2 separate regions of the Homo sapiens genome follow, and region 1 is linked to region 2. The links come from fine-mapping of genetic effects on gene expression. A gene starts in region 2. The other region holds a variant in brackets. All regions are shown on one strand. Distances are between the middles of the regions. Region 1 holds the start of PTPN11 (protein tyrosine phosphatase non-receptor type 11). Region 2 holds the start of NAA25 (N-alpha-acetyltransferase 25, NatB auxiliary subunit).

Region 1 (15,493 bases), 310 kb before region 2:
TAATTCTTCAATGAATGGATAGATGTTTCATTAGAGTAGGCCAGTGGGATGATAAAAACTTGAACCATTATCTTTAAAATAGACATTGTAAAGGCCAGGTACAGTGGTTCACATCTGTAATCCTAGTACTTTGGAAGGCCGAGGCAGGCAGACAGCTTGAGCCCAGGAATTTGAGACCAGCCTGGGCAACAGAGCAAGACCCTAACTCTACAAAAAAATAGAAAAATTGGACAAGTTTGATGCCACGTGCCTGTAGTCAGTCCCAGCTACTCAGGAGGCTGAGATGGGAGGATCACTTGAGCCCAGGAGGTCGAGGCTGCAGTGAGCCAAGATTATGCCACTGCAGTCTCCAGCCTGGGCAACAGGGTAAGACCCTGTCTCAAAAAAAAAAAAAAAAAAAAAAGACATTGTATGTGTGTATATACATGTATGTGTAGACAGATATACATATTACAGAAACACATACAATGTGTATTTGTGTTTATATGAGTATACAAATATACATATATACACATACATTCTAAACAGTATATTCTATACCAATACATTTCAAATTTCAGGCTTGTGTGGTAGCTCATGCCTATAATCCCAGCACTTTGGAAGGCCAAGGTGGGCAGATCACTTGAGGCCAGGAGTTCAAGACCGGCCTGGCCAACATGGTGAAACCCCATCCCTACTAAAAATATAAAAATTAGCCAGACATGGTGGCACGCACCTGTAATCCCAGCTACTCAGGAGACTGAGGCACAAGAATTGTTTGAACCCAAGAGGTGGAGGTTGCAGTGAGCCAATATTGTATCACTGCACTCCAGCCTGGGTGACTGAGTAAGACTCTATTTCAAAAAAAAAAAATTTCAAATTTCATTTTGGTACTAGCTTTATCAAATTCATTTGATGCTGGCATAAAAGTCTGTCTCCCTCTCTAAATTCAGTGCTCCTCGCGAACATGGATAGTATTTTTCCTATTTCAGTGTTGTCAAAGAGCGTCACATATACACATTTGCTCAAGGCACAAAGTCCTCCAAAATTCATAGTAATGAACTGGGCTGCATTTTAGGGCATCTGAATCCATTTCAGGGTCTCCAATCCTTGGTTGGGGTCCACAACTCCCAGAGACCTTGCCAACATCACTTTTTGCCTCTTTCTTCCTTAAAAACATTGGCGTTGGATGGCAAGTACTGTCTGTGTTTCCCAGAGGGAAGGGGAATAAGCTGAGTTTCTCTATTGTTCTGTGGCTGCCTAACAAAGTACACCACGGCCTGCTAGGACAATTACAAACATGAGTTGGCTCTGCTTTTCCAGCATCATGTGCCACTCATAACAGTCTCCACATTGACCATGGACACGAGGGGTAAGTCATCTTAGCAGTGGCCTCTGCACTTGAGCAACTCTAACCAAAAACTTGGCCTTACATCAGGACCTAACGTTAATAAAGACATCCCAGTTTCCACTGCAAAGACACAGAACTGTTATTTTTCAGCAAGGCAAGTTTATTTACTCCCGCAGGAGATAAACAAACGTGGCCACCAGGGAGAGCCCAGGACAAAATGTACTTGACCTGCAAGAGATAAACCAAAAGCCTCCAGTCTCAGAACAAGCTCAATTTTCTGCCCCTCTCAGCTCATCGTCGCGTATGGATTTCAGAGCAACAAAAACAGATGTAAAGGAGGTACCACATGCTGAAGGAAGAGTTGGAAAATACAGGCAGCTTTGTTGGTTTCACAAAGGCAGAAAAGGGCAGAGAAGCAACCTCAAAATCTAAATCCAGTACTATCACTGCTACATGATCAAGGGAGGAGTCACTTAATTGCTGAATGCCTTAGTTTTCCTACCTATGATGCTGAGAGATATCAGTACATTGAATATACTTACATTTTAATTACTGGATGCATATAAAAGCCGAACCCAAGAGGAGTTATTTTGATAATTAAGCAAAACAAAATTCAGACTACTAATTGTCATTCAGGTGTCAGCTCACACGATCACCTTCTCTAAACCACCTATCAAAACTAACTGCATTCTCCCATCCTCACATTTCTGTGGGATTTTTTCCCTCCTAGAATTTATTACTACCTGAAATTGCCCTATTTAGTCATGTGTTTGTCTGCTCTCTCTCAGCCATGAAAATAGCAATATTTTCCTATCTTACTGCTTTATCCTGCCTGGCTCATTAACTTCCTGTTGAATGAATTAATACTAGGTTAAAGTAATTTGAAGGCGGGACGCAATAGCTCATGCCTGTAATCCCAGCACTTTGGGAGGCCGAGGCAGGAAGATCGCTTGAGCCCGGGAGTTTGAGACCAGCCTGGCCAACATGGCAAAACCCTGTCTCTATAAAAAAATACAAAAATTAGCCGGGTGTGGTGGTGCACACCTGTAGCCCCAGTAACCGGAAAGCTGAGGAGGGGGGATGGATTGAGCCTAGGAAAACAAGGCTGCAGTGATTGCACCACTGCACTCCAGCCTGGGCAACAAAGTGAGACCCTATCTCAAAAAAACACAATAATAACAATAATAATAAAATTCTAGGGCTGGGCAGGGTGTCTCATGCCTATAATCCCAACACTTCAGGAGGCCAAGGTGAGAGGATCACTTGAACCCAGGAGTTTGAGACTGCCCTGGGCAACACAGTGAGACCCCATCTCTATTCAAACAATTTTAAAATTTTTAAAAATAAAATTCTAGGAAATGCAAACTAATACATAGTGACAGAAAGCAGAATAGTGGCTGCCTAAGAACAAAGGAAGGATTATAAAGAACATAAGGCAAAATTACCAGGGGTGATAGATGTGTTCATTATCTTGACTATGGTGGTGGTTTCCCAAGTGTATATGTATGTCAAAACTGATCAAATTGTACATTTAAATATATGCAATTAATTGCATGTCATTTATACCTCATTAAGGCTGGTTAACAAATAAAACAGGCTTATAATCCAAAAAATAATGAATCATTCAAAATTATGTGTATTATGTTCATAACCCGGCTTTTTGGGTGGTGCATAATACCAGGGCTGGAGGGGAGAAGGAATTACTCCATTTCAAACTGTCATCTTTACCACTTGCTACTTTGACTATGCCCACACTTCTATGCTTCTAAATGAACAAACTGGACAATGTAGGGTCTATTACTACCCAGACCTTTTCCCAACCCCCAGCCCCGTCTGATGTCTCCTAAAGCAGCAGATCCTTACTTGTCTGGAAGAGCAGACACCAGGAACAAAAGGCTCAATGACTATTTGACAGATTAAAGAATAGACAACTGTTTATTTAAAAGCTCCCTAAAGAATTAGAACATTTGAGGCTATACACTGTTCTGTTGAAATGCAGTTATATATTACCCAGATCTGTAAGCACTTGCCAACCGACCTGTCCAAGTCACTCACTTCCTACGAGTTCTCAGTTTTCTTTTTCTCCCCTTTTTAAATTCCAGATCCATGTATGAATAACATGCCAGGTGTGTTTGGAGGAGACATTCCTAATATTTTGAAAAATCTCATTCAGGCTGGGTACGGTGGCTCACGCCTGTAATTCCAGCACTTTGGGAGGCCAAGGCGGGCGGATCACGAGGTCAGGAGTTTGAGACCAGCCTGGCCAACATAGTGAAACCCTGTCTCTACTAAAAATACAAAAATTAGCCGGGCATAGTGGTGCGCCTGTAGTCCTAGTTACTTGGGAGGCTGAGGCAGGAGAATCGCTTGAACCTAGGAGGCGGAGATTGTGGTGAGCCGAGATTGCGCCACTGCACTCCAGCCTGGGCAACAGAGTGAGCCTCCGTCTCCAAAAAAAAAAAGAAAAAAAGAAAAGAAAATCTCATTCAAATAGCCTCAATAGCTTGAATCGTTTTTTAAATGTCTGAGACAGTGACCATAATTGAACAATCATGGAAAAGAATAGACAATGGGTCTTAAGTGTGAGTGGTATATAGAGTGACTATACAAAATAGCAGGATCACTATCTGAAAACAACAGGTCACACTACTGTTTGACAACAAAATTAAGGCTTACAAATGGTTAGCAATAGTTACAAAATAATAGAAGCAACATAGTGATTAAAAGTAGGGATTCTGTCTCCACCACCTACTAGCTGTGAGGTTAGGCAATTTACTTAACCTCTGAAACTCGGTTTACTCATCTTTACAATGGGGATAATAGTAGCCATCTGATAGGGCTGTGGTCAGAACTAAGCAAATGTTAGCTATTAGTAGTAGTATTACCCTGACCTTTCAAAGGATCTCATTAACTCACTAATCCTCCTAAGTTTCAAATCTTGTCATTTACTAGCATGTTGCTTCTGGGCCTCGGTTTCCTCATCCATAAAACGGGTACCAGTAAAGTGACCTGACTGTTAAGGTTGCAGTGAAGGATTAAATAACGAGATGCGGCTCCCTTCCTTTCCATCTCCCAAAGCGAAGATCGCAGAGGAAGGAAATACTTCTAGTGGCTGCAGATACAGTCAGTTTTTCCATTTCTGGCACGTGAGGGGTAGGAGGAAAAGAAGACACAAAGAGGCATATAAAAGGGTCAGGGGTCCTGCGTGAAGTCCCCAAATGCACGAAAGTGGCACAGTGAGCCAGAACGACTAGACCACTGGGGGCCCGGCCCCGCGCAACTCCCCTCTCGTGTCCCAAGGAGCCTCCCCAAGTGAGCAGGGTTATTTCGGAATCACCATGAGGCAATTCTCATGAGGCAATGGGTCAGGAATGCGGCGCTGAGCCTGGCCGCTGGCACCCGTGGTTCCCTCGGCGGCTCTACCTGCCCCGGGCCTGACGGGCATCCCCGGGGCTGCCGCAGCCGGAACTCGGGGAGGCAGGAAATGAATGGGGACCCGAGGGGTGGGGGCGCGGTGGGGCCGGCCCCCGGCCCCTGGAGGGCGAGGGGACGAGGAGGGAACCGGCCCCCAACCCCGACCCGGGGCGGGAGCCCGAAGCCCGGCCGGGGCGCCCCCTTCCGGACGGGGCTAACCGAACGCGGCGGTGGCCGGGCCGAGGCCCGCGCCGGGCCCCTCGGGGCTCCTCACCTCCGCGATGTCATGTTCCTCCCGCCCTCCGGCTCCGCGACGGACCCGCTCCTTGCTCAGGCTCCGCTGGGCTCGGTCACATCGGGCTGGCCCGAGGGAGGCCCGCTCGGGACCGGACGCGGGGCAGAGCCAGCCGGCCGCGCACAGACCCCCCTCCAGGCCTGGGGATCCCGGAGACTGTGCAGCTGCCCCCCGGCCCGGCTCGCTCCTCCTCCGCCCCCGCCCTTCGCCGCCGTCGCCCCCGTGATGTCACCGCTCGCGACGCCCGCCGCCACTTCCTGCTTCCCGTCAGCGGAGGACCGAGCGACGGCCGGGAATGGCAGCGCGGGGGCTCCGCGGAGGCGCCACGCACAGTGTCCAAAGCATCCTTGCTTCCTCCTGGAAACCGCGGCCGCCAGGTGTGAGCTGCGCGCTCCGCGTCTACGCCACCGACCCGTCCGGGCCCGCTGCCACATCGATTTCATTCATTTCGTTCCACAAATCGCCGCTCCACTCATTAGCTGTGGAACCTTGGGGAAATTACCTACTGTCTCCGAGCCTCGGTTTCCTCCATTCTTTTCTTTCTGTAAGATAAAGATAGTAGGCTGGGCGCGGTGGTTCACGCCCGTAATCCCAACACTTTGGGAGGCTGCGGCAAGAGGTTCGCTTAAGCCAAGGAGTTCGAGGCCAGCCTGGGCAAAAAAGCAAGACCTCATCTCTACAAAAAATGCAAAAAACTAACCGGGCGTGGAGGCTGCGGCGGGAAGATAACTTAAGCCCGAGAAGTCGGGGCTGCAGTGAGTCGTGATCACGCCACTGCACTACACCCTGAGCGACAGGGCAAGACACTGCCTAAAAAAATAATAATAGGCTGGGCGCGGTGGCTCACGCCTGTAATCCCAGCACTTTGGGAGGCCGAGGTGGGCGGATCACGAGGTCAAGAGATCGAGACCATCCTGGCCAACATGGTGAAACCCCGTCTCCACTAAAAATTCAAGAATTAGCCTGGCGTGGTGGGGGGCGCCTGTAGTCCCAGCTGCTTGGGAGTCTGAAGCAGGAGAATCGCTTGAACCCGGGAGGCAGAGGTTGCATTGAGCCGAGATCGCGCCACTGCACTCCAGCCTGGCAATAGAGCGAGACTCCGTCTCAAAATAATAATAATAATTACAATAAATACTACTTTGGGGTGGGAGCGGTGGCACACGCCTGAAATCCCAGCACTTCCCTTTGGGAGGCTGAGGCGGGCGAATCGCTTGAGTCCAGGAGTTGGGAACCAGCCCGGGCAAAATAGTGAAATCCCATCTCTACAAAAAATACAAAAATTAGCCGGGCGTGGTGGCGCGCGCCTGTAGTCCCAGCTACTCGGGAGGCTGAGGTGAGAGGATTGCTTGAGCCTGGAAGGTCGAGGCTGCTGAAAGCCGAGATCGCGCCACTGCACTCAGGCCAGGTATGGTGGCTCACGCCTTCATCCCAGAACTTTGGGAGGCTGAGGCAGGAGGATTGCTTGAGCCTAGGAGTTCAAGACCAGCCTGGGCAACATGGTGCGACCATGTCTCTTAAAAAAAAAAAAAAAAAAAAAAAAAAAAGCCGGGCCGGGTGGTACGGAAGTATTACTTTGGACACTCTGTGAAGCTCGAGCAAGAGAGCAAGGCCAGAAACAGAGAAGCCAGTCAAAATACGGAATACTATAGTATTCTGGTCTGGGAATAATGGTAGCTCAGACCAGATTGAGAAGAGTAGAGCTTTTACTTGATTGATGCGCATATGACTCATTGAAGGCTACAGATCTAGCTGAGCGTGGTGGCTCACGCCTGTAATCCCAGCACTTTGGGAGGCCAAGGAGAGCAGATCACTTGAGGTCAGGAGTTCAAGACCAGCCTGGCCAACATGGTGAGACCCCGTCTCAACTAAAAATACAAAGATTAGTCGGGCTTGGTGGCGCACACCTGTAGTCCCAGCTACTCCGGAGGCTGAGGTGGGAGAATTGCTTGAACCGGACAGGCAGAGGTTGCAGTGAGCCCAGACTGCACCACTGCGCTCCAGCCTGGGTGACAGGGTGAGACTCTTTCTCAAAAATAAATAAATAAAGGCTACAGATCTAGTGAATGGCAGAGCCATAAGTTTAACCCATATCTGTATAGCTCCAAAATCCTCATTTTTTTAATGCTTGCCCATTTCATTCATATACAAGTGAGTCTCATACTGTGTGCTAACTGCTTCAGCATCATGTGCTCCTTACAAAGATCACCTTTAATATATGCCAATTTAATTCACATAAGAGCCATTTAACAAGCAGTTGTCCCTCTCCCTAAATCCTGGCCAGCTAGATGACAAGCTACATTTTAACTGATCTCAGGCCTGCAGGCCTAAACTTCCTAATCCAATCTCCACATAGTAGCCAGAGTAATCTAAACTACAAAACTAGGCGGGTCACTCGGGGCGCGGTAGCTCATGCCTGTAATCCCAGCACTTTGGGAGGCCAAGGCAGGTGGATCACCTGAGGTCAGGAGTTTGAGGCCAGTCTGGCCAACATGGTGAACCCTCGTCTCTACTAAAAATACAATTAACTGTGGCCAAGTGCGGTGGCTTACACCTGTAATCCCAGCACTTTGGGAGGCCAAGGTGGGTGGATCACCTGAGGTCAGGAGTTTGAGACCAGCCTGGCCAACATGGTCAAACACAATCTCTACTAAAAATACAAAATTTAGGGCTGGGCGCGGTGGCTCACGCCTGTAATCCCAGCACTTTGGGAGGCTGAGGCGGGCGGATCACGAGGTCAGGAGATCGAGACCATCCTGGCTAACACAGTGAAACCCCATCTCTACTAAAAATACAAAAGATTAGCTGGGCGTGGTGGTGGGCACCTGTAGTCCCAGCTGCTCGGGAGGCTGAGGCAGGAGAATGGCGTGAACCCAGGAGGTGGAGCTTGCAGTGAGCCAAGATCACACCACTGCACTCCAGCCTGGGCAACAGAGCGAGACTCTGTCTCAAAAAAAAAAAAAAAAAAAAAAAATACAAAATTTAGCTGGGTGCAGTGGCAGGCACCTGTAGTCCCAGCTACTCAGGAGGCTGAGGCAAGAGAATTGCTTGAACCCAGGAAGTGGTGCTTGCAGTGAGCCAAGATTGCGCCACTGCACTCCCACCTGGGCGTCGGAGCGAGACTCCATCTCAAAAAAAAAAAAAAAAAAAACTGCAAAACTAGTCACTCCCTACATTGAATTCACCAATGGCTTCTCCTTGATTTTAGAATGAAGTCCAAAAAAAAAAAAAAAAGGTTTATCCCCCTGGATGTGGTGGCTCACCTCTGTAATCCCAGTGTTTTGGGACTCCTAGGTGGGAGGATTTCTTGAGCCCAAAGAGTTCAAGAACAGCCTGGGCAACAGAGTAAGACCCCTGTCCCTACAAAAAAAAAAAAGTTTTTTGTTTTGTTTGAGTTGGAGTCTCATTCTGTTACCCAGGCTGGAGTGCAGTGGCGCAATCCCGGCTCACTGCAAACTCCACCTCCCAGATTCAAGCAATTCTCCTGCCTGAGCCTCCCAAGTAGCTGGGATTACAGGCACGCACAACCATGCCCAGCTAATTTTTTTTGTATCTTTAGTAGAGACAGGGTTTCGCCATGTTGGCCAGGCTGGTCTCCAACTCCTGACCTCAAGTGATCCACCCACCTCAGCCTCCCAAAGTGCTGGGATTACAGGCGTGAGCCACCATGCCCGGCCCAAAAAAAAGTTTAAAAAAATTTTTTTAGACCCAAGGTCTTGCTATGTTGCCCAGGCTGGCCTTGAACTCCTGGCCTCAAGCAGTCCTCCCACTTTGACCTCCCAAGGCCTTGGATTTACAGGCGTGAGCCAATGCACCAGAGTTTTTTT[A/TA]ACTCTGGTCCCCAATCACTTCACCACCCCGTCTCCCCACTACTCGCTTCATTCTCTATGACCCAGCCATGCTGAATGACTTTCAGCTCCCCTCAATATGCCATATTCTTTCCCAGCGTAGAGCCTTTTAACAATCTGCTTTCTTTCCCCAGAGGGTTCTTCCTGACTGTCCTCCACATCAACTCTATGCCTCTGATCTCAGGCTAGGAGCCACTTCCTCTGGAATACAAGCCTCACCCGATTCTCTAGTGCAGGTCAGATGGTCACCAAGACACCTATCCTTAGAACCTAACATGCTACACTATAAATCTAAGAGCCGTATCATATAGGAAGCATCCAATTAAGTTTTGTGGGTTTTTTTTGTTTTGTTTTTTTTTTTAGACAGTCTCACTCTGTCTCCCAGGCTGGAGTGCAGTGGCGTGATCTCGACTCACTGCAAGCACCGCCTCCTGGGTTCACGCCATTCTCTTGCCTCAGCCTCCCAAGTAGCTGGGACTACAGGTACCTGCCACCACGCCCGGCTAATTTTTTGTATTTTTTTAGTAGAGACAGGGTTTCACCGCATTAGCCAGGATGGTCTTGATCTCCTGACCTCGTGATCCACCCGACTCGGCCTCCCAAAGTGCTGGAATTACAGGCGTGAGCCACGGCGCCTGGCTGCCAATTAAGTTCTTGATCTAGCTGCCTGGGTGTCTATAAGCAAGTCATTTGACTCCTCTGTGTCTGTTTCCTTCTCTGCAAAGTAGGAATCAAAATCCTACCATAGGATAGGTTTGTGAAATACTCAGAACAGTGTCTGGCAAAGTCAGCACTTGATAAAAGCTGGCTATCATTTGTCTCTTTTCCAAAGTAAACTATTAGCTCTTTGAGTGCAGGAACTACTACCTTCCTAGTGTTTCCTATATTCTGCACACTCTGCAGCTAGAATGAATAATCTTTTAAAAATACAAATCTAATCACGTCACTCCCCTCCCCTGTTGTATGAAGGAGGTTCAAACCCTCTAGCATTAAGTTGAACTCCTTCCCTTAGCACATCAGTCCGTTCTAGATATGGCCTGTGCCAACACCCTCACATAATCTAGCAGTTTCTAAAGGCTTCTAGCTGTTTCTTGCATCCCTGTCTTCCAAAATTTAGTTCCTACTGCCTGGAATACTCTTCAAACCCTTCTCCACCTGGAAAACAGTCATGCAAGGTTAAACTCCAACTTAAGCAGCTCCTCCAGAAAACATTCTTTCACTTTTTGAGAATAAAAGAGAGACTCCTTTCCTATGCTCCTGGGGCTGCCTCTTCATGCTTCTATCAGCACCTAACACATTTCAACATCATTGTGGGTTCTGTCATTGTTGTTCTGTGTCTTTCTTTAGATTATGATCTCCTTTTAAGACAAAGTCATTGTCTTCCTTTTTTTTTTTTTTTAATACAGACAGGGTTTTGCCATGTTACCCAGATTGGTCTAAAACCCCTGGGCTCAAACAATCATCCTGCCTCCGCCTCCCAAAGTGCTAGGATTACAGGCATGAGCTACCATGTCCGGCCGGTCTTCCCATCTTTATATGCCTGGAGTAGTGCCTGGCATATTCATTTATATGGCCGGGCATGGTAGCTAACAGGAGGATCTCTTGAGACAGGAGTTTGAGACCAGACTGGCAGCCTGGGCAACATAGCAAAAACAAAACAAAACAAAACAAAACAAAAAAACCTCAATCTGAATTATTTTATTATTATTATTTATTTACTTTTTAAGATGGAGTCTTCACTCTGTCGCCCAGGCTGGAGTGCAGTGGCACAATCTCGGCTCACTGCAAACTCTGCCTTCCGGGTTCACACCATTCTCCTGCCTCAGCCTCCCGAGTAGCTGGGACTACAGGCACCCGCCACCATGCCCGGCTAATTTTTTTGTATTTTTTAGTAGAGACGGGGTTTCGCCGTGTTAGCCAGGATGGTCTCGATCTCCTGACTTCGTGATCCACCTGCCTTGGCTTCCCAAAGTGCTGGGATTACAGGCGTGAGCCACCGCACCCGGCCAACTCCATCTTAATTTTAAAAAGATATATTCATTTAGAGATTAATTCAGATAATAGCCATTACTTTATTTGAATTTCTTTCTCAATTACAAAAGCAATACAAGTTCCTTGCAACAAACTAAATAACAAACAGTAATTTTCTCTGTTCCTTGATGCATACGTACTCCATATCCCAATCCCCAGCAGTGTTAATGGTTTGGTGTATGTCTTTCCACACTTTATACATATACAAACACACAAACTCATCCCATACACAGGCTCACACACATACATAACACATATAAAGATATTTTTCTATTTATTTATTTATTTATTTATTTATTTATTTATTTGAGACAGAGTCTCACTGTGTGGCCCAGGCTGGAGTGCAGTGGCACAATCTCGGCTCACTGCAACCTCTGCCTCCCGGGTTCAAGTGATTCTCGTGCCTCAGCCTCCCAAGTAGCTGGAATTACAGGCATGCACCACCATGCCTGGCTAATTTTTGTATTTTTAGCAGAGATGGGGTTTCACCATGTTGGCCAGGCTTTAAAAGATTTACTGCCTAACAAACAAACAAAAAATACAGCTGAGGCAACATTGTGAGACCCTGTCTCTACAAAAAATGTAAAAAAATTAGCCAGGTATGGTGGTGTGCACTGTACTCCCAGCTACTCAGGGGGCTGAGGTGGGAGGATTGCTTGAACCCAGGAGGTCAAGGCTGCAGTGAGCCATGATCTCACCTTGCATTCCAGCCTGGGCGACAGAGCGAGACTCTGTCTCCAAAAAAAAAAAAAAATTAGGCTGGGCGAGGTGGCTCACGCCTGTAATCCCAGCACTTTGGGAGGCCGAGGTGAGCAGATCACCTGAGGTCAGGAGTTCAAAACCAGCCTGGCCAACATGGTGAAATCCTGTCTCCAATAAAAACACAAAAAATTGGCCGGGCAAGGTGGCTCAGGCCTGTAATCCCAGCACTTTGGGAGGTCGAGGCGGGCAGATCACGAGGTCAGGAGATCGAGACCATCCTGGCTAACACAGTGAAACCCCACCTCTACTAAAAATACAAAAAATTAGTCAGGCATGGTGGCGGGCGCCTGTAGTCCCAGCTACTCGGGAGGCTGAGGCAGGAGAATGGCGTGAACCCGGGAGGCGAAGGTTGCAGTGAGCCGAGATCATGCCACCGCGCTCCAGCCTGGGCAAAAGAGCAAGACTCTGTTTCAAAAAAAAAAATTAGCCAGGTGTGGTAGCGGGCACCTGTAATCCCAGCTACTCAAGAGGCTGAGGCAGGAGAATGGCTTGAACCCAGGAGGCAGAGGTTGCAGTGAGCCAAGATCACGGCACTGCACTCCAGCCTGGGCGACAGAGCAAGACTCCATCTCAGAAAAAAAAAAAAAAGATTAAGTGTCTGCAAAAATGTCTGCTTTGTGATTAAAGTGCTGCACAAATTTCAGAGAATTTTATATATGGCAAAACTAAACTTAATAAAAACATTTACTTTATAACTAACATGGTATTTTGCCCAACTAATGAATTGTAAATTTTGCAATACCGCAACAAAACACAAGAGGGGGTTCATCTACGTTTTTATTTTAATGACAGGTCATTCAACACATATTTTGGGGCGTTCACTAGGTGAAATTATCTGAGATTGCCAGCAATTTTGAGGGGCCCACGTAAGCAACTGTGCATCTCATTCATTCATTGTGGTACATTTTCTGCAGTTGAAGTTTCTAAGAGGTGCTTTGCTGAGGAAGCTAAACAAATAAAGCTGCTGACATTCCCATTCTCAAAAAAAAGGGCAGTGTTCATCTGATCATTGTATTTGTATCCTCAGTGAATCAGAACCAGAAAAAGGCTAAATGATTCCCAGAGACACAGCCATGAAGCAGGTGGTTTCGATCTGAAAAAATCAAGGTGAAAAGCTCTAGCAACCAGAAAGAAACGAATGGAGGAAAATGGAAAACGCAAGCTAGAAGGTATTACAAATGTGTACATGTTGGCTTAAGGGCTTTGAAGCAGTAAAGAACTATCACATATACTGTGTTGTGTATTTTGTAAAAGATAATAAATATTCTTATTTTTAATTCTAACATGAGCAAAACTCTCATGCATCTTCATTAATCATCTCTTTAATCTTGCAGCCTAATGGTTAAGAGTGCAATCTTTGGAATCAGATCTATGCTGTGAGCAAGTTACTTAATGTCCTTGAGACTCAGTTTCCTCATAATAGTATCATTCACAGGTTGTTGGGAGAATTAAATGAAATAAAGCAAGGCACATTGTATGCAATATTGCCTATTATCTCCCATGCATAAACTTTAGCAGAATACTTGACAACAACTAGGATGTTGATGATCAGATGATTGTAGTGGTGATGGTGACAATAACAAGAGCTAACAGTTCGCCAGGTGCGGTGGCTCACGCCTGTAATCCTAGCACTTTGGGAGGCTGAGGCGGGTGGATTACTTGAGGTCAGGAGTTCAAAACCAGCTTGGCCATCATGGTGAAACTCTGTCTCTACTAAAAATACAAAAAATTAGCTGGGCATGGTGGTGTGCGCCTGTAATCCCTGCTACTTGGGAGGCTGAGGCAGGAGAATCACTTGAACCCAGGAGGCAGAGGTTGCCGTGAGCCAAGATCGTGCCACCACACTCCAGCCTGGGTGACAGAGCGAGACTCCATCTCAAAAAAAAAAAAAAAAAAAAAAAAAAAAAAAAAAAAAGAGCTAACACTTATGTAGCATTTACCATCCATCAAATAATCAAATATGCTTCTCAGTACTGTTGTATATATTATTTAATGTTCCCAACATCCTTATGAAGTAAGTTACTATTGTTATCCTCACTTTAATTTTTTTTTACTTTTTTTAAGACAGAGTCTCATTCTGTAGGCCAGGCCGGAGGACGGGAATGAGAAAGGCCATGTACAAGAGGAAGTAGTCAGCCGCTAAATCCAAGGTAAGGGAAGAGGGGACCACTGACCTAATCTCAAGTGACAAGATTAGAGTTCACTGCACTGCAGCCCAGACCTCCAAGACTCAAGTGATCCTCCCGCCTTAGCCTCCCGAATAGCTGGGACTACAGGCACTAACAACCACACTCGGCTAATTTTTTTTCTTTTTTTCTTTTTTTTGTTGTTGTTATTGTTTTGAGACTGAGTCTGGCTCTATTTCCCAGGCTGGAGTGCGGTGGCACGCAGTGGCACGATCTTTGGAGTGCTGGGATTACAGGCGTGAGCCACCGTGTCCGGCCCTTTTTTTTTTTTTTTTCTTTTTTGAGAATCTTGCTCTGTTGCCTAGAGCGCAGTGTCGCGATCTTGGCTCACTGCAATCTCCACCTCCAGATTCAAGTGATTCTCCTGCCTCCGCGCCTCGACTGGCTGTCATTACAGACACGCACCACCCACGCCCGGCTACCTTTTGTATTTTTAGTAGAGACGGGATTTCACCATGTTGGCCAGGCTGGTCTCGAACTGCCAACCTCAGAGGATCCTCCTGCCTCGGCCTCCCAAAGGGCTGGGATTACAGGCGTGAGCCACCGCACCCGGCCTAGGATTTACTACTTTTTTCTTAACGGGGAAATACTACATTCCCCATGATGCCCCAGATCCGGAAGGAAGTGAGACTCGCACTTCCCATGATTGCTTATAGACCGGAAGCCGGGACCTTAATTCTCTTTCCCATCTTGCAAGGTAAGAATCGCGGGCCTGTCTGCAAGACTTGAGTTCAGGACTCCCAATCCTTCGCCATCCGAACCTGGAGGGCATCCAGTCGACACCTACAGGGGTCGGACATGTCCAAGGCTAACTGAGAGGCCTTCCAGACGCTTCATTTTTGTTGTTTGGGTTTGCGGCAGGGCACAAAGAGGGTGAGGTAGAATGCCGTAGTGGCTCCCTCCGGTTCTTCGCCACTCTCTTGGGCTGGGGGAACGAGGCCCTTTCGGGGACCCGTAGCAGACTGGTGGGTGTTAGAGGAAGCGGGGAGACGGCGCGTGCACTGTGTTCCTGGTCCTGGGTTCCAGAGGATGACACTGAGCCTGTCGCAGCCACGTTGGGGTTCCGCACTGAAGCCAAAAGGTTTCGCGTCTCCCAGCGTCCCCGACCGGAAGTCGCCTCTTGGTCTTTGCGATCTTTTTCTCTGGCTCAATTTGGGCTGATTCCGTTTGTGTCCGCAATTCCTAAATCGAGTTTCTTGAAAAGAGACACTGGTCTTAAGGGTTAAGACGAAAGGTACTGAAAGTAAGGGATTTCAAGTTCTGGTCTTGGTGCTTCTAACCTGTGGACACATTCTGCATCTAAGTTTTCTAATTCGCAAAACAGTAATAAAAAATAATGGTTGTACGGACTTCTGACCGCTCAGTATTTGGCAAAAAACCTAATAGGTGTGAGGTAGTTTCAAATTCTCAAAAAAAAAGTTTATAGTGTATTGGGGAGACAAACCCCAAATGAGTCATAGTGAAGGTTGGAGTAGAATGGGTAGAGTTTGAGAGGAAGGCCTGTATCTTACCGGGGGAGGGATTGTAGTCTGGGGAGCCCAGCCCATTCATGTACAGGTTCATTATTGTCTTGTTAGAGAGATGACTGGTGAAATGCCTTTTTTTATCTACAAAAAAATATTTTTAGATGGCG
Region 2 (15,493 bases):
TTTTCTAGATGGAGTTAGGTCTTCCAAGGCGGGCTTTAGACATTCATCTGATTTTATTATTATTATTATTATTGGCACATAGTCACAAGTATATTCATCTCTAACTGGAGAATTATTTGTGAAACTACTGCTAAAAGCCAGTTTCCTAATCAAGGTGCCAGGCCCTGAAACACTCTAGATATGTCCTCAGGCCCTGAAATGTTCACATTATTTCATCAGTTCTGAAGCAAGGAGCAAGAGATGTTGACAGTTATCAAGGAGAAGAGGAAGGGTGAGGGATGTTTGTGTGGGGAAGAGAGCGGTGGGGGGTTGAGCAGGGAGGAAGAGGCTCAGAGCCGCAGCTGATAACTGGGGACTCATACATATTCATGAGGAGGACTGGGATTGGACCAGAGGCCTCAGAGCATGCTGGGACATTTTCCAGGCTGCCTGTTTGCCAGGCAGAGTTCCCAGGGGCCACCGCTGCCTTCCCCGGGCAGCTTCAACCCACAGACACCTGCAGAGACCCTCCTAGTGTCTAGAGGAGGAGAGTTAGGATCACTTTGTTTTAGTCTGATTTCCCAGGAAAAGCCCTCACTCAGTTCTCTCCCCCAACACTGCCTAAGGTGTGAGGCCGGGCACAGTGGCTCACACATATATATAATCCCAGCACTTTGGAAGGCAAAGGTGGGAGGATTGCTTGAGCCCAGGAGTTTAAGACTAGCCTGAGTAACATAGCAAGACCCCTGCCTCTACAAAAAAGTGAAAAAATTAGCTGGGCATTCTGATGTGTGTTTGTAGTCCCAGCTACTCGGGAGACTGAGGGAGGAGGATCGCTTGAGCCCAGGAGTTCAAGGCTGCAGTGAGCTGTGATTGTGTGACTGCACTCCCTCCTGGGTGACAAAGTGAGACCTTGCCTCACAAACAGACCAAATAAATAAATAAAAACATAACCTATGGTTCCATTTACTGGGAGAAAAAATCTTTTCTCCACTGAATTTCACTTGGGCCTTTGTCATAAATCAAGTGACCATATGTATAGAATCTATTTCTGGGCTCTCTGTTCTACACATCTACCTGTTTATCCTTATGCTATTTCTCCACAGTCTTAACGAATGTGGCTTTATTTATTTATTTATTTTGAGAAAGGGTCATAGCCCACTGCAGCCTCAAACTCCTGGCTGGATCAAGCAATCCTCCCGCCTCACACTCCAGAGTAGCTGGGACCACAAGGGTGCACCACCACTTCCAGCTAATTTTTTTAGTTTTGTAGAGATGGGGGTCTTGCTATGTTGCCCAGGCTGGTCTTGAACTCAAGCAATCGTCCTACCTTGGCCTCCCAAAGTACTGGGATTACAGATGTGAGCCATTGCAACTGGCCTTGCCATTTTGGCTATTCTAGGTCATTACTATTTTCATATAAATTTTAGAATTATTTAAAAAATTTCCTGGGTGGTTTTAATTCCTTATCTCATACGCTTTCTCAGGGAACTGGCCACAAAGCAGCACTACCCCCTCAAGGTGACTTCATTCCAAATCAAGGGCCTCATTCTTAGCATCCAGTAGCCCAAATGCAGCTGACAATGTTCTCCCAAGAGTTGAGTAGTTCAGAGGCTGTATAGAGCAAGCCCAGACTCAGATCAGATAATCCAGCCAACTCTGCAGACTCCGGTGTTGACCTGCCCTTGAATAGAGACTAGAGACTGTTCCATGACTAGCCAGAAATGCATATGGAAATTTAATATATGATAATGATGGCATTGGGTGCTTTGTGAAAAAGATGGACTATTCAATAAATAGGGGTTGAGGTCAGGCATGGTGGCTCCCTTGGCTTTGAGAGGCCGAGGTGGGAGGATTGCTTGAAGCCAGGTGTTCAAGAACCTGTCTCTACCAAAAAAAAATATATATATATATAAAATACATTTTATATATATATATATATTTTTTTTTTTTTTGAGATGGAGTCTCACTCTGTCACGCAGGCTGGAGTCAGTGGCGCGATCTCAGCTCACTGCAACCTCCATTTCCAAGGTTCAAGTGATTCTCCTGCCTCTCTTGTAATCTGGGATTACAGGCGCCTGCCACCACGCCCGGCTAATTTTTGTGGTTTTAGTACAGATGGAGTTTCAGCATGTTAGCCAGACTGGTCTTGAACTCCTGACCTCAAGTGATCCGCCCACCCTGGCCTCCCAAATTGTTGGGATTACAGGTGTGACCCACTGCGCCCAGCCTGCGAGCCACCGCACCCGGCAAAAACAAAACAAAACAAAACAAAAATATATACATGTGTATATATATGTATATATATATTCCCTTTATATATTTATACAGCTACTATATATATTTATATGACCACTATAGATAGATAGATACAACTGAAAAAGATAAAATTGAAATCTCACCTTATTTATTTATTCGTTTTGAGACAGAGTATTGCTCTGTTGCCCAGGCTGGAGTGCAGTGGCGAGATCTCAGCTCACTGCAATCTCCGCCTCCTGGGTTCAAGCAATTCTCCTGCCTCAGCCTCCCAAGTAGCTGGGACTACAGGCGCACGCCACCACGCCCAGCTAATTTTTTGTATTTTTAGTAGAGATGGGGTTTCACCAGGTTGCCCAGGCTAGTTGTCATCTCCTGAGCTCAGGCAATCTGCCCACCTCGGCCTCCCAAAGTGCTGGGATTACAGGCATGAGCTACCGCACCTGACATTTATTTATTTATTTATTTATTTATTTATTTAATTTGTTTATTTTGAGAGGGAGTCTTGCTCTGTCGCCCAGGCTGGAGTGCAATGGTGAGATCTCAGCTCACTGCAACTTCCTCCTCCTAGATTCAAGTGATTCTCCTGCCTCAGCCTCCTGAGTAGCTGGGAATACAGGCACGTACCACCTCGCTCGGCTAATTTTTGTATCTTCAGTACAGACTGGGTTTCACCATGTTGGCCAGGCTGGTCTCGAACTCCTGACCTCAAGTGATCTGCCCATCTTGGCCTCCCAAAGTATTGGGATTAGTGTGAACTACCACGCTTGGCCGAAAGACTACCTTATTATTCATATGGAAATAAATACCAAATGGATCAAATATTTACGTGTTAAAAATAAAACCATAGGCTGGGCGCGGTGGCTCACGCCTGTAATCCCAGCACTTTGGGAGGCCGAGGCAGGCGGATCATGAGGTCGGGAGGATCCAGACCATCCTGGCTAACACTGTGAAACCCCGTCCCTACTAAAAATACAAAAAATTAGCCGGGCGTGGTGGCGGGCGCCTGTAGTCTCAACTACTCGAGAACCTGGGAGGCGGAGCTTGCAGTGAGCCGAGATAGCGCCACTGCAGTCCGGCCCCAGGCGAAAGAGCGAGACTCCGTCCCCCCCGCAAAAAAAAAAGAAAAACTAGAAGAATCATTGGATGGAGACACCCACATCACCATATTCAAGTAATGCAGTCCCCCTCCCTGGTATCCTTAGCTATTCAGGCACAAAGCACCCAGGTGTCTCACTGCCCTTTAGGGAAAACATTTCTTCTTCCTCTTCCTCTTCCTCTTCCTCTCCTCCTCCTCCTCCTCCTTCTCTTCTCCTTTTCCTTCTCCTCCTTCTCCTTCTCCTTCTGCTTCTTCTTCTTCTTCTTTTTTTTTGGCGGTAGGGGGACAGAGTCTTGCTCTGTGGCCCAGGCTGGAGTGCAGTGGCGTGATCTCGGCTCACTGCAACCTTTGCCTCCTGGGTTCAAGCGATTCTCCTGCCTCAGCCTCCCAAGTAGCTGGGATTAGAGGTGTGGGCCACCACACCTGGCCAATTTTTGTATTTTTTAGTAGAGATGGGTTTTTGCCATGTTGGCCAGGCTGGTCTCAAACTCCAGACGTCAAGTGATCCACCTGCCTCAGCCTCCCAAAGCGCTGAGATTACAGGTATGAGCCACCACACCCGGCCAGGGAGAATGTTTCTCACTAGAGAAAATGTTACCAAATGAAGACTGTATGCCCCTCCTCTAAGTTGAGAAAATGGAAAACACTACTTAATGAGCACCTGCTGTATACCAAGCACTTTTCCATAATGTCATCGCTAAGAGCTCCAAGTTCTGAATTGTACAGCAAGGATGGGCTTTTGGCTTCCTCAGAGGTCATCTTGTTACCCGAAAAGATTCAGGCCTGCCAAAGGGTGTGCAAGCTGCCTCCCAGCGGCAGGTAAGGACAGGCCCAGAGCCTAGCGAGTCACTGCTTCATTCTTAGGTTCTGAGGACAAGCAGTAGGAATGGGAAAAGAGAACAACCAATTAATCCTAGTTGGATGCTAAGCAGTCTTTCAGAGTGGAGGGAAATATATCCCACTAAGGATGGTGACCTAAGACTCTAGAAGCCTCTGCTAGGTAGATCCATATGATGCCCTGGTCTTGCCAAGTTCAGGGAGCTGGGTGCCAAGTCTATCAGCATTCCTCTGGGGCCAGGCCAACAAAGGTAGCGTAAGAACATGGCTGAGTAACCCGAGCCTTGGTTAGGAGCCTCATATGTGCTCCCCTTAAAGGTGCTGTATTTTTCCATTCCTGGGAAATTCTTAAATCTCAGGTGACTCATCATCTCTTTCACTTGCACCAAAGGTGAACCCCAGCTCTCCTCCCTCCTTTTCCCTGTCCTAGCCCAACCTCAGCAGGGTCACACACCATCTCTGAGTGATCCTAGGGTCAGCTTGCCTGAGGCATCTGCCCTTCATTGTTGCTGCTTAGCATGATTTGGGGGGCATGGAGTTTCCCCTAGCGCAGGGTTGCCCGATTTAGCAAATAAAAATACAGGACACCCAGTTAAATTTGAATTTAAGATAAACAGTGAATGTATGTATGTATGTCTCAAATATTTTGTTGTACTTTGCCTGATAACTTCATCCCGGGAGTCTTTGTTTGTTTGTTTTTGGAGAGTCAGGGTCTCGCTCTGTCACCCAGGCCGGAGTGCAGTAGTGCAATCATAGCTCACTACAGCCTCAAACTCCTGGGCTCAAATGATCCTTATCCAGGGAGTATTTATTTATTTATATATATTTTTGAGACAGAGTCTCCCTCTGTTGCCCAGGCTGGAGTGCAGTGTTGCAATCTCGGCTCTGCAACTTCCACCTCCTGGGCTCAAGTGATTCTTGTGCCTCAGCCCCCTGAGTAGCTGGGATTACAGGTGCGCACCACCCTGCTCAGCTAATTTTTTTTTTTTTTTTTTTTTTTTTGGAGATGGAGTCTCACTCTGTTGCAGGCTGGAGTGCAGTGGCACAATCTCGGCTCACTGCAAGCTCCGTCTCCTGGGTTCACGCCATTCTCCTGCCTCAGCCTCCCGAGTAGCTGGGACTACAAGTGCCCGCCACCACGTCTGGCTAATTTTTTTGTATTTTTAGTAAAGACAGGGTTTCACCGTGTTAGCCAGGATGGTCTCGATCTCCTGACCTCGTGATCCACCCACCTTAGCCTCCCAAAGTGCTGGGATTACAGGCGTGAGCCACTGTGCCCAGCCGCTCAGCTAATTTTTTATTTTTAGTAGAGATGGGGTTTTGCCATGTTGCCCAGGCTGGTCTCGAACTCATGTCCTCAAGTGATCCGCTCGCCTAGACCTCCTAAGTGCTAGGATTACAGGCGTGAGTCACCATTCCCGACCTCTGGAGTATTTAAATGCCTTCCTTTTTTTTTTTTTTTTTTGAGATGGAGTCTTGCTCTGTTGCCCAGGCTAGAGTGCAACAACATGATCTTGGCTCACTGCAACCTCCACCTCCCGGGTTCAAGCCTCAGCCTCGGGAGTAGCTGGGATTACAGGCACGTGCCACCACGCCTGACTAATTTTTTGTATTTTTAGTAGAGATGGGGTTTCGCCACGTTGCCCAGGCTGGTCTCAAACTCCTGACCTCAGGTGATCCACCCGCCTCGGCCTCACAAAGTGCTGAGATTACAGGCACGACCCACTGCACCCGGCCTATTTATTTATTTATGCAAGAGTCTTGCTCTGTTGCCCATGCTGGAGTGCAATGGCACGATCTTGGCTCACTGCAACCTTTGCCTACCGGGTTCAAGCGATTCTCCTGCCTCAGCCTCCTGAGTAGCCGGGGTTACAGGCTCACACTACCACACCCAGCTAATATTTGTATTTTTAGCAGAGAAGGGGTTTTATCATGTTGGCCAGGCTTGTCTTGAACCCCTGACCTCATGTGATCCACCCACTTTGGCCTGCCAAAGTGGTGGGATTACAGGGGTGAGCCACCAAGCCAGCCTTACCACACTATTTAAAATTACCTCCCTCTCTCACTGCCCCCCTTTCCTGCTTTATTTTTCTCAGTAGCATTTATCACCATGTAATAGGCTATCTACTTATTTATTGTCTGTCTCCCTCACTACAAATAAAAACTCCATTAAGTCTCTGTCTATTTTATTTATTGATGTATCCTCTGTGCCTAAAACAAGAGTGTGTCAAATAATAGGCACTCAATAACTCAGTGTTGTACGAATAAATCTATCTGTAAAAAGAGAGGTAATAATAAGATCTACCTCCCAGGGAAATACGATGACAGTTATGAAAATTAAATGAGAGAATAAATGTAAAGACCTTGCATTTAAATACTCTAGGCAGATACCGAGTAAGTATTCATCTAGGATGCTTCTTTGTTGGCTGAGTCCTGGGAGAAGGGTGTGTGGCAGGCCAGGTCTCACTAACACAGGCCTCCATAACAACTGTTTCAGTACTAACTGAGTGGTTAAGTTACATATTAAAAGCTAAAAAAAAAAAGCCAGTGCCCTTATACAAAGGATGGAATGTAACAAAAGCCCACCAAGAGTTTTGCCTAGGCCTTTCCTTGGCCTTAAAGCATGACAAAATAACGAAAGAATTCCTAACAGGACCCATTTAGGATTAAACAAATTTTATTGGGGGTCTGAAGTAACTCCCCAAACCTCCGTGATTTAGTAGGAGGCAAGATAAGGATAATCACCCCAGCACCTATTGCCATTTAGATTAAGTAAATTTACTGAGGCTTCAAAGGAAAGTCTTCAGGACTCAAACCTTAGTTATAGACTAAAGTGAGTTAATCAATTATTATTATTATTATTTTTTTTTTTTTGAGACGGAGCCTCCCTCGCCCAGGCTGGAGTGCAGTGCCGGGATCTCGGCTCACTGCAAGCTCCGCCTTCCGGGTTCACGCCATTCTCCTGCCTCAGCCTCCCTAGTAGCTGGGACTACAGGCGCCTGTCACTGCGCCCAGCTAATTTTTTGTATTTTTAGTAGAGATGGGGTTTCACCGTGGTCTCGATCTCCTGACCTCGTGATCCGCCCGCCTTGGCCTCCCAAAGTGCTGGGATTACAGGCATGAGCCACCGCGCCCGGCGAGTTAATCACTTATGTCTTTAGATGAATGCACATTTACACGTAGACATATAGCTTAGAAGGTATATAAGCTCTGGAAAGCTTTGTAATTTTAAGTTGGTCTGGTGATAATTTCCAGGCCTTCTCCCTGTAACTGGTTGCAGAAATAAAAACTCGCTTCCTCTCCAGTTCATCTGCATCTCCTTACTGAACCAGGAGAAACAGCAGCCTGACGCTCAGTTTGGTCCAGGAACAGGTGGTGGAGGGCTCTCGAACTTTTTTCTTTTTTTTTTTTTTTTTTTGAGATGGAGTCTCGCTCTGTCGCCCAGGCTGGGGTGCAGTGGCGCGATCTCGGCTTACTGCAAGCTCCGCCTCCTGGGTTCACGCCATTCTCCTGCCTCAGCCTCATGAGTAGCTGGGACTACAGGCGCCCGCCACTACGCCCCGCTAACTTTTTTTGTATTTTTAGTAGAGATGGGGTTTCACCGTGTTAGCCAGGATGGTCTCGATCTCCTGACCTTGTGATCCGCCCGCCTCGGCCTCCCAAAGTGCTGGGATTACAGGCTGAGCCACAGCGCCCGGCTCTCTCGAACTTTTTTGGCAGATTTTTGCTGTTGATCAGCCCCGCTTCCCCAACTTTCCCCTGGGTCTCTCTCCCCCGGGAGTTTCTGGTTCCTCTGCGATTAATCACAGCCAAGTCTAGCTGGTTCTTCAGGACGGAGAATAAATAGGATAAACAGGAGCAGCCGAACCCTAACTTTGAGAGCTTTCTCCCCTCCTCTCCTAACTTCCCAGTCAGTGACTCGGAAGACTTTAACAGCAACAGCTGCCTCCTCTTGCCAGCTTGATCCCACCTGCTAAGTGAAGGAACAGCGTTTAAAGAGGTGGCAATCGGCAAGGGTGGATGCTTCCCTTTCCGCGCAGGCGCGTTCAGTCGCAGCACCGCGACTATCGTGATAGACAAGCGAGATCGACGCTGGCCCTTTAATAGCCCTTTCCCGGGGTCCTGCCCCGCGCGTGCGCACTGTGGTTCTGCGCTTGTCATCATGGCGACGCGGGGCCATGTGCAGGACCCTAACGACAGGCGCCTCCGGCCCATTTACGGTGAGTGTCTTGGACCAGCCCGCTCGCCAGCCCGACGCGCCGAGGGCTGCCGAGGCTGGGGCGAAAGCCCAGGAGGGGTGCTGAGGGCCGGCGCGCGGGCCGGGCAGGCGCAGGGGGGCGGGCCGCGCGGGCCACTAGGCCGCAGCCGCGGGCCTCGCGTAGGCGCCGGCCCAACCTTCCTCAGCCTTGGGGTGGTAGTGGCGCGGTCTGGGCAGCAGCTGGTCGGCAGAGCTGGCCTGCTTGGCAGGCCCCGTGGGACGCGTGGTTCTGCAGACACCTGCGCTACCCGCAGGCTGCATCGTTACCGCCGCTCCTAGGGAGACCGGAGATCTCCCCGAAGGTGGAAGCCGGCTCCGGCACGAGGGTGGGACGCCCTGCCTGAGGGAAGATTCCCTACCAGAGATTTTTTTTTATTTACGGGAATTGGGCCTAGAGGGTTGTCTGACTAGGTGGGCTTCGGTGCATAGGAGAAACTGAGGTCCGGAGTGGGGAAGGGGCTGACGCAAGGTCACCCAGATCGAGTCAGGAGCAGGCCCGAGATTCCAGGCTCCCAATCCAGAGCTGTTGGGTGGAGAAGCAGCTACTCTGGTCACACGTGGGAGGCGGGGGGAGGGGGTCTTGGGCCTAAAATAGCGGTGAAGAGATTGTGATAGCTCGTGTCAGAGGGGCATGCAGAGCTACTGGAGGGCTTCTCCTTTCTGCAGCTTCTCTGTGGTTTTCTCTGCAGCTTTCCTTCCCTGTGCTAAGCAGATCCCTCTCCACAACTCTTACCTCAACCCGCAGACTTGAAGACCTTGATGTCATCTCATCCATTTACCCTGGTAGTGAAAAATCACAGATTTTGAGTTTGGGAGAAACCCTTTTCCAATAACCGAAATGTGTAATTGGATTGGTCCTTTTTGCATTTCCTTTCCTCTTAGATGGTTTTATGGTCTTGGTCTATCTCACTTAATGGTGAGGAAGCTTCAAGGTCAGTGGTTTTTACAAAAGTAGACATCGTATTTATAGACCTCATGTGGATGTTACTAAATTGGAGGCTTCTCTCCAAGGTGGGAATCGTTTTGGGAGCGGGGGGCGGTGGTTAACTTTGTTTCTGGCCACAGTTAGTCCGGCTTTTATTTCATAATTTGTGTGATTTTTTTTTTTACTCTCACATCTCATTTGATTTTAGCAACAATCCTATAGCTAAGGTTTATAGATGACTCATTATGACAGTCACTGGCCTTGGCCTTTTATATGGGTTATCTAATATAATCTTCACCCATTCTCAAGAGGTGGCTACTGTTTTTTCCTGCCCCTGAACCCTTTAACAACAACAACAACAAAAAAAAAAACAGATGAGGAAACTGAGGCTTTATTGTTGTTGTGTAATTTGTCTAAGGCCACTCAGTTAGTATTTCTTGGAGCTAGAATTTGAACCCCTGTGGACTGTTTCAGGCTCACCTTTTTTTTCTTTTGAGATGAGTCTCACTCTGTCGTCCAGGTTGGAGTACAGTGGCACAATCTCAGTTCACTGCACCCTCTGCCTCCCAGGTTCAAGCGATTCTCCTGCCTCAGCCTCCTGAGTAGCTGAGATTACAGTTGCACGCCACCAGGCCCAGCGAACTTCCATGTTTTTAGTAGAGACAGGAGTTTACCATGTTAGCCAGGCTGGACTTGAACTCTTGACCTACTCAGCCTCCCAAAGTGCTGGGATTATAGGTGTGAGCCACCATGCCTGGCTCCAGGCTCACCTTTTTTTTTTTTTTTTTTTTTTTTTTGGAGACAGTCTCATTCTGTCATCCAGGCTAGAGTGCAGTTGCACAATCACAGTGCACTGCAACCAGCCTCCGCCTCCTGGGTTCAAGTGATTCTCCTGCCTCAGTCTCCTGAGTAGCTGGGATTACAGGTGCCCGCCACCATGCCGGCTAATTTTTGTATATATTGTAGAGAATGGGTTTCGTCATGTTGCCCAGTCTAGTCTAAAACTCCTGAGCTCAAGCAGTCCTGCCTCAGCCTCCCAGAGTGCTGGGATTACAGGTGTGAGCCACTGTGCCTGGCCCAGGCTCACCTTCTTAACCACTGTGCTAGAAACTACCTCACTTTGAGCTGAAGACACTGATTTGCCTGAGGTCACACAGATGGTAAGTGGCAGAGAAAGGACTCTGATTTCCTATTTCCCCGGGGCTGCATATTCTCATGCCCTTGCCCTCCAGTGTATATTTTCAGAGGGCAGAGATATATATACAAGGTGGGTGATGGAAGGTGAGAACTGAATCCAGGGTTCATAGTTTGTGACTCATTACAGCTTTGTGCAGCAGCTGCCTGCAGACTTTTTTTTTTTTAAACTAAAAACACTCAATACTTTCAAGAATAATTTGATTTTTAAAATTGTTCTTGAGGACCAAAGAGAATTTCTTTGGTCCCATAGTTATTTAGAATTAATAGTGTTTTGACTGTCTAATGGGAAACACCATGTCCATTTCACATCACTAAACATCAGGATATATTAACAAGTTATATTCTCAAAACTGAAGTCAGAATTATGTAGCTTTTGTAACATGTACATGGGAAGAGGATTAGAAGAGGCTTTCTTCAGTAATTCTAAGGCGATTAGTATAAACTGGCAGGACTAGGAAAAGAACGGTACAGACTGTCCGTGAATTCAGCACTTAAGCACATTTGACTTTTGAACTCCACACTTTTGTTGTTTAAATACATTACTACCCCCAAACAACCATGGTTCCTTGAATTCAGACATTCTGACAAATGAACAAACTCATCTATGGTGGTACTTGCCCACCAGCCAAAAATTCAACAACTATCAGCATTAATTAGTGTTTACTGGTGGGCTGACTGCCCTATTAGGTAGGTAAGATTATTGTGATCAAACTGAAGCCTAGAGATTAACTTGCTCAAGGTTGTAGCTACCAAGTTGTAGAGCTGGGATTTGAACATAGACATTCTCACTGAGAGCTCAGCTCTTCACCAAGTTCAGATTCAGTAGCATCACTGTCTTTGTACAACAGTATTTGTACTGCCAAGGTTTCAGGATTTATTTTACAATTGTGTTGGAAACCTTGCTTGGGGCCTCAGCTCTTGCTGGAATTCATTGAGGGTATATGTGGACAGGGCTATGTGGTGATAAATTGTGGTGGGTTGAAATTTTACTGGTGGTGTCTAGGGTTGGAATAGCTTTTCTGTGTGCATAGATTTGAAACATCTTCCCAGTGCATCTCACATTACTAATAAGTTTGGGTATTGCATTTTTCGTTTTTGAAAACCTCCACCCATGACCTTACTGGAACCCATACTTGATTATTTGGTCTCCTTTTGCTAAAATTATTCTCTTTTGCTACGTAGTTCCCAGCAGATTTTGTACTCTTGTGTGACTTGGTAAGCCCCAGTGCCTTCTTTCGTTATTTTTTTGAGACAGGATCTGGCTCTGTCACCCAGGCTGGAGTGTCTTGGCTCACTGTAACCTCCACTTCCCAGGCTCAAGTCATCCATCCACCTCAGCCTCCTGAGTACTGGGACTGCAGGCGGGCACCACCACGCCTGGCTAATTTTTGTATTTTTTGTAGAGACAGCATTTCACCATGTTGTTCAGGCTGGTCTCGAACTCCTGAGCTCAAGCAATCTGCCTGCCTTGGCCTCCCAAAGTGCTGGGGTTACAGGCGTGAGCCACTGCGCCCTGCCCATTATTATTATTATTTTTTTAAGAAGGAGTCTTGCTCTGTCACCCAGGCTGGAATGCAGTGGCGCGATCTTGGCTCACTGCAACCTCTGCCTCCTGGGTTCAAACAGTTCTCTGCCTCAGCCTCCTGAGTAGCTGGGTTACAGGCATGCACCACCATGCCCGGCTAATTTTTGTTTTTGTTTTTGTTTTGTTTTTTTTTTTGAGATGGAGTCTCACTCTGTCCTGCAGGCTGGGGTGCAGTGGCGTGATCTCCGCTCACTGCAAGCTCCACCTTCCGGGTTCACGCCATTCTCCTGCCTCAGCCTCCAGAGCAGCTGGGAATACAGGCGCCCGCCACCACGCCAGGTTAATTTTTTGTATTTTTAGTAGAGACAGGATTTCACCACATTGGCCAGGTTGGTCTTGAACTTCTGATCATGTGGTCCACTTGCCTCAGCCTCCCAAAGTGCTGGGATTACAGGCGTGAGCCACTGCACCTGGCCCCATTATTCTTAATTTTAAAACATTTTCAGTGGTTATGGATTAGGGAAGGGAAGGGATGGAGGGAGATAATAAATATTTGACTCTGTTTTGTTATGCAGCCTCCTCTACCCCATACTTTTATTTATTTATTTTTCTTTCTTTTTTTTCTTTTTTGTTTTTAATTTCACGCTCATATTTTTAGATAATTGGAAGTGGAATTGATGGTCAGGTATGGCACTTAATAAATTTGTATAGAATATGGGAATTGCTAGGTCAGCAAATTGCATAATAGAAATAGAGAAAGTTCAAAGTAGAAAAAATGTGTGCATAGTCTTTAGAATATACACACATACACAGGCATGAGATCCCTTGTTTTAATATGTCGTACTGACCTGCAGTCTTGGATTAGCCTGGATCAGGTGTAAGATATTTTCCAGTGTGTCTCCCGGGTGACAGTCACTTCTTTGCTGAGTTAGGACATTTCTCTTGGGTGCCTGGCTCAGGTAATTATTCCACTATAGTTCATAGTTTAGGAGTTCCTGACCCCAGGATGGTGTGTGATACTGGTCTGTGGCCTGTTAGGAAATGGGCCGCACAGTAGGAGGTGAGCAGCAGGGTGTTGTGGGGGAGAGCATTACTGCCTGAGCCCCGCCTCCTGTCAGATCAGCTCTTAGGAGTAGGAACACAAACCCTGTTGTGAACTATGCATGTGAGGAATCGAGGTTGGCGCTCCTTATGAGACTCTAACTAATGCCTGATATCTGAGGTGGAATAGTTTTATCCCGAAACCATCCCTCCCTGCCATCTGTGGAAAAATTGTCTTTCATGAAATCGGTCCCTAGTGCCAAAAAGGTTGGGGACCACTGCTCTAGTTCATAAATGAAAACTTGCAGGTCCTCAATCAAAAGTGGTATTTATTCTGACCTCCTCTTGGACAGTGTGGTAGCTTTGTGAGTCTGGTCCTATTTTGCCTCAGAAGTGACAGGGTACCTTGGTGAGTGAAGACTATCTTGCGTTTCTGTAGAAAAGTCACTTGGCACAACCTATTTTTTTCCATTCTGAAAATATGACCATTTAAAAAGCCCTGACTTACTAGAACTTCTCTCAATGAATCTAGAACTTCCATCACCATTGGATGGCTGAGACCACCTCTGCCATACCAAAACCTTGCTCATAACCAAAACAGTCCCTGTTGGTCTTTTGCCCTGGACCTGTGACATTCTGGACTATTTTTGTGTTCAGTTTTGGCCAAGTGTTAACAAGCATACAAAGCTGGGCACAGTGGTTTGGCTGGGTGAGGTGGCTCATGCTTGTAATCCCAGCACTTTGGGAGGCCGAGGTGGGTGGGTTGCTTGAGGCCAGGAGTTCGAGACTAGCCTGGCCAAAATGGCAAAACCCCATCTCTACTAAAAATACAAAAATTAGCCAGGTGTGGTGGCAGGCGCCTGTAACCCCAGCTACTCAGGAGGCTGAGGCAGAAGAATCACTTGAACCCGGGAGGCGGAGGCTGCAGTGAGCTGAGATTGTGCTACTGTACTCCAGCCTGGGGGACAGAGCGAGACTTCATCTCAAAAAAATAAAAAATAGGGCTGAGTGCAGTGGCTCACGCCTGTAATCCTAACACTTTGGGAAGCCGAGGCCGGCGGATCATGAGGTCAAGAGTTTGAGACGAGTCTCACCGACATAGTGAAACTCCGTCTCTACTAAAAATATACGAAAAATTAGCCGGGTGTGGTAGTGTGCATCTGTAATCCCAGCTATTCAGAAGGCTGAGGCAAGAGAATCGCGTGAACCCAGGAGGCGGAGGTTGCAGTGAGCCGAGATCGCGCTATTGCACTCCAGCCTGGGCTCCAGTGCGAGACTCCATTGCGGGGGGCGGGGGGGCAGCTAGTGTGATGGTGCATGCTTGAACCCAGGAACTTCAAGCTGCAGTGAGCTGAGATTGTGCCACTGTACTCCAGCCTGGGCAACAGAGCAAGATTCTATGTCAAAACAAATAAACAAAAAACTATTCTGCTGTCTTAGCTGAATAATTCAAACAAACAACAACAACAAAAAACCCTGACCTAGACTTTTAAACTGAAAATGAAGGTTTTAGTGCACAAAAATATTCTTAGATGAATACATAGATTAGAGGGTAGTTGTTGAAACATAGGGCAAGATGAAGAGATTAGTACATTTCTTTTTTTTTTTCTGTTTTTGGAGACAAGGTCTTGCTGTGTTGTCCAGGCTGCAGTGCAGTGATGTGAACATGGCTCACTGCAGCTTCGACCTCCTGAGCTCAAGTGATCCTCCCGCCTCAGCCTCTGGAGTAGCTGGCACTGCAGGCACATGCCACCATGCCTGGCTAGTTTTTTAAATTTTTATTTTATTTTATTTTTTTGAGATGGAGTTTCACTCTTGTCGCCCAGGCTGGAGTGCAATGGTGCGATCTCAGCTTGCTGCAACCTCCGCCTCCTGGGTGGATCACTTGAGTCCAGGAGTTTCAGACCAGCCTGGCCAACGTGGTGAAAACCCATCTCTACTAAAAATACAAAAAAATTAGCTGGGCATGGTGATGCACGCCTGTAATCCTAGCTACTCGGGAGGCTGAGGCAGGAGAATAGCTTGAACCCAGGAGGTGGAGGATGCAGTGAGCCGGGATTGCACCACTGTACTGCAGCCTGGGTGACAAAGCTAGACTCTGTCTCAAAAAAAAAAAAAAAAGTTGAAAAGATTTGGAAAAAATTTAATAGCTGGTAGCCATCACTAATCACTGGTTCTTTGAACTTCCTGTTGTGATCACTTTGTATTATCTTTTTTTTTTGATAGATTTTTTAAGATGCAGTCTCACTCTGTCACCTGGGCTGGAGTGCAATGGCGTGATCTCCACTCGCTGCAACCTCCGCCTCCTGGATTCAAGTGATTCTCCTGCCTCAGCCTCCCAAGTAGCTGGGATTACAAGCACCTGCCACCACACCT

The links.
Region 1: its variant is fine-mapped to the expression of NAA25 in breast (GTEx, PIP above 0.99). The same link has a PIP of 0.9 or more in thyroid.

Annotation. Positions count from the first base shown.
Region 1 is chr12:112,408,651-112,424,143 of GRCh38, reverse strand. It overlaps PTPN11 (protein tyrosine phosphatase non-receptor type 11), which reads right to left and starts at 5,197. Exons shown (of 16, transcript NM_002834.5): 1 at 5,019-5,197. The coding sequence starts at 5,032. It overlaps RPL6 (ribosomal protein L6), which reads left to right and starts at 14,539. Exons shown (of 7, transcript NM_000970.6): 1 at 14,539-14,557; 2 at 15,488-15,493. The coding sequence starts at 15,488. RefSeq lists silencers at 4,690-5,259, 4,971-5,322 and enhancers at 4,696-5,343, 5,310-5,569, 5,344-5,991, 5,992-6,640, 14,729-14,908. The variant A/TA (reference allele first, on the strand shown) is at 8,864.
Region 2 is chr12:112,101,614-112,117,106 of GRCh38, reverse strand. It overlaps NAA25 (N-alpha-acetyltransferase 25, NatB auxiliary subunit), which reads left to right and starts at 8,324. Exons shown (of 24, transcript NM_024953.4): 1 at 8,324-8,391. The coding sequence starts at 8,334. RefSeq lists silencers at 8,375-8,454, 8,475-8,554 and enhancers at 10,155-10,656, 13,975-14,475.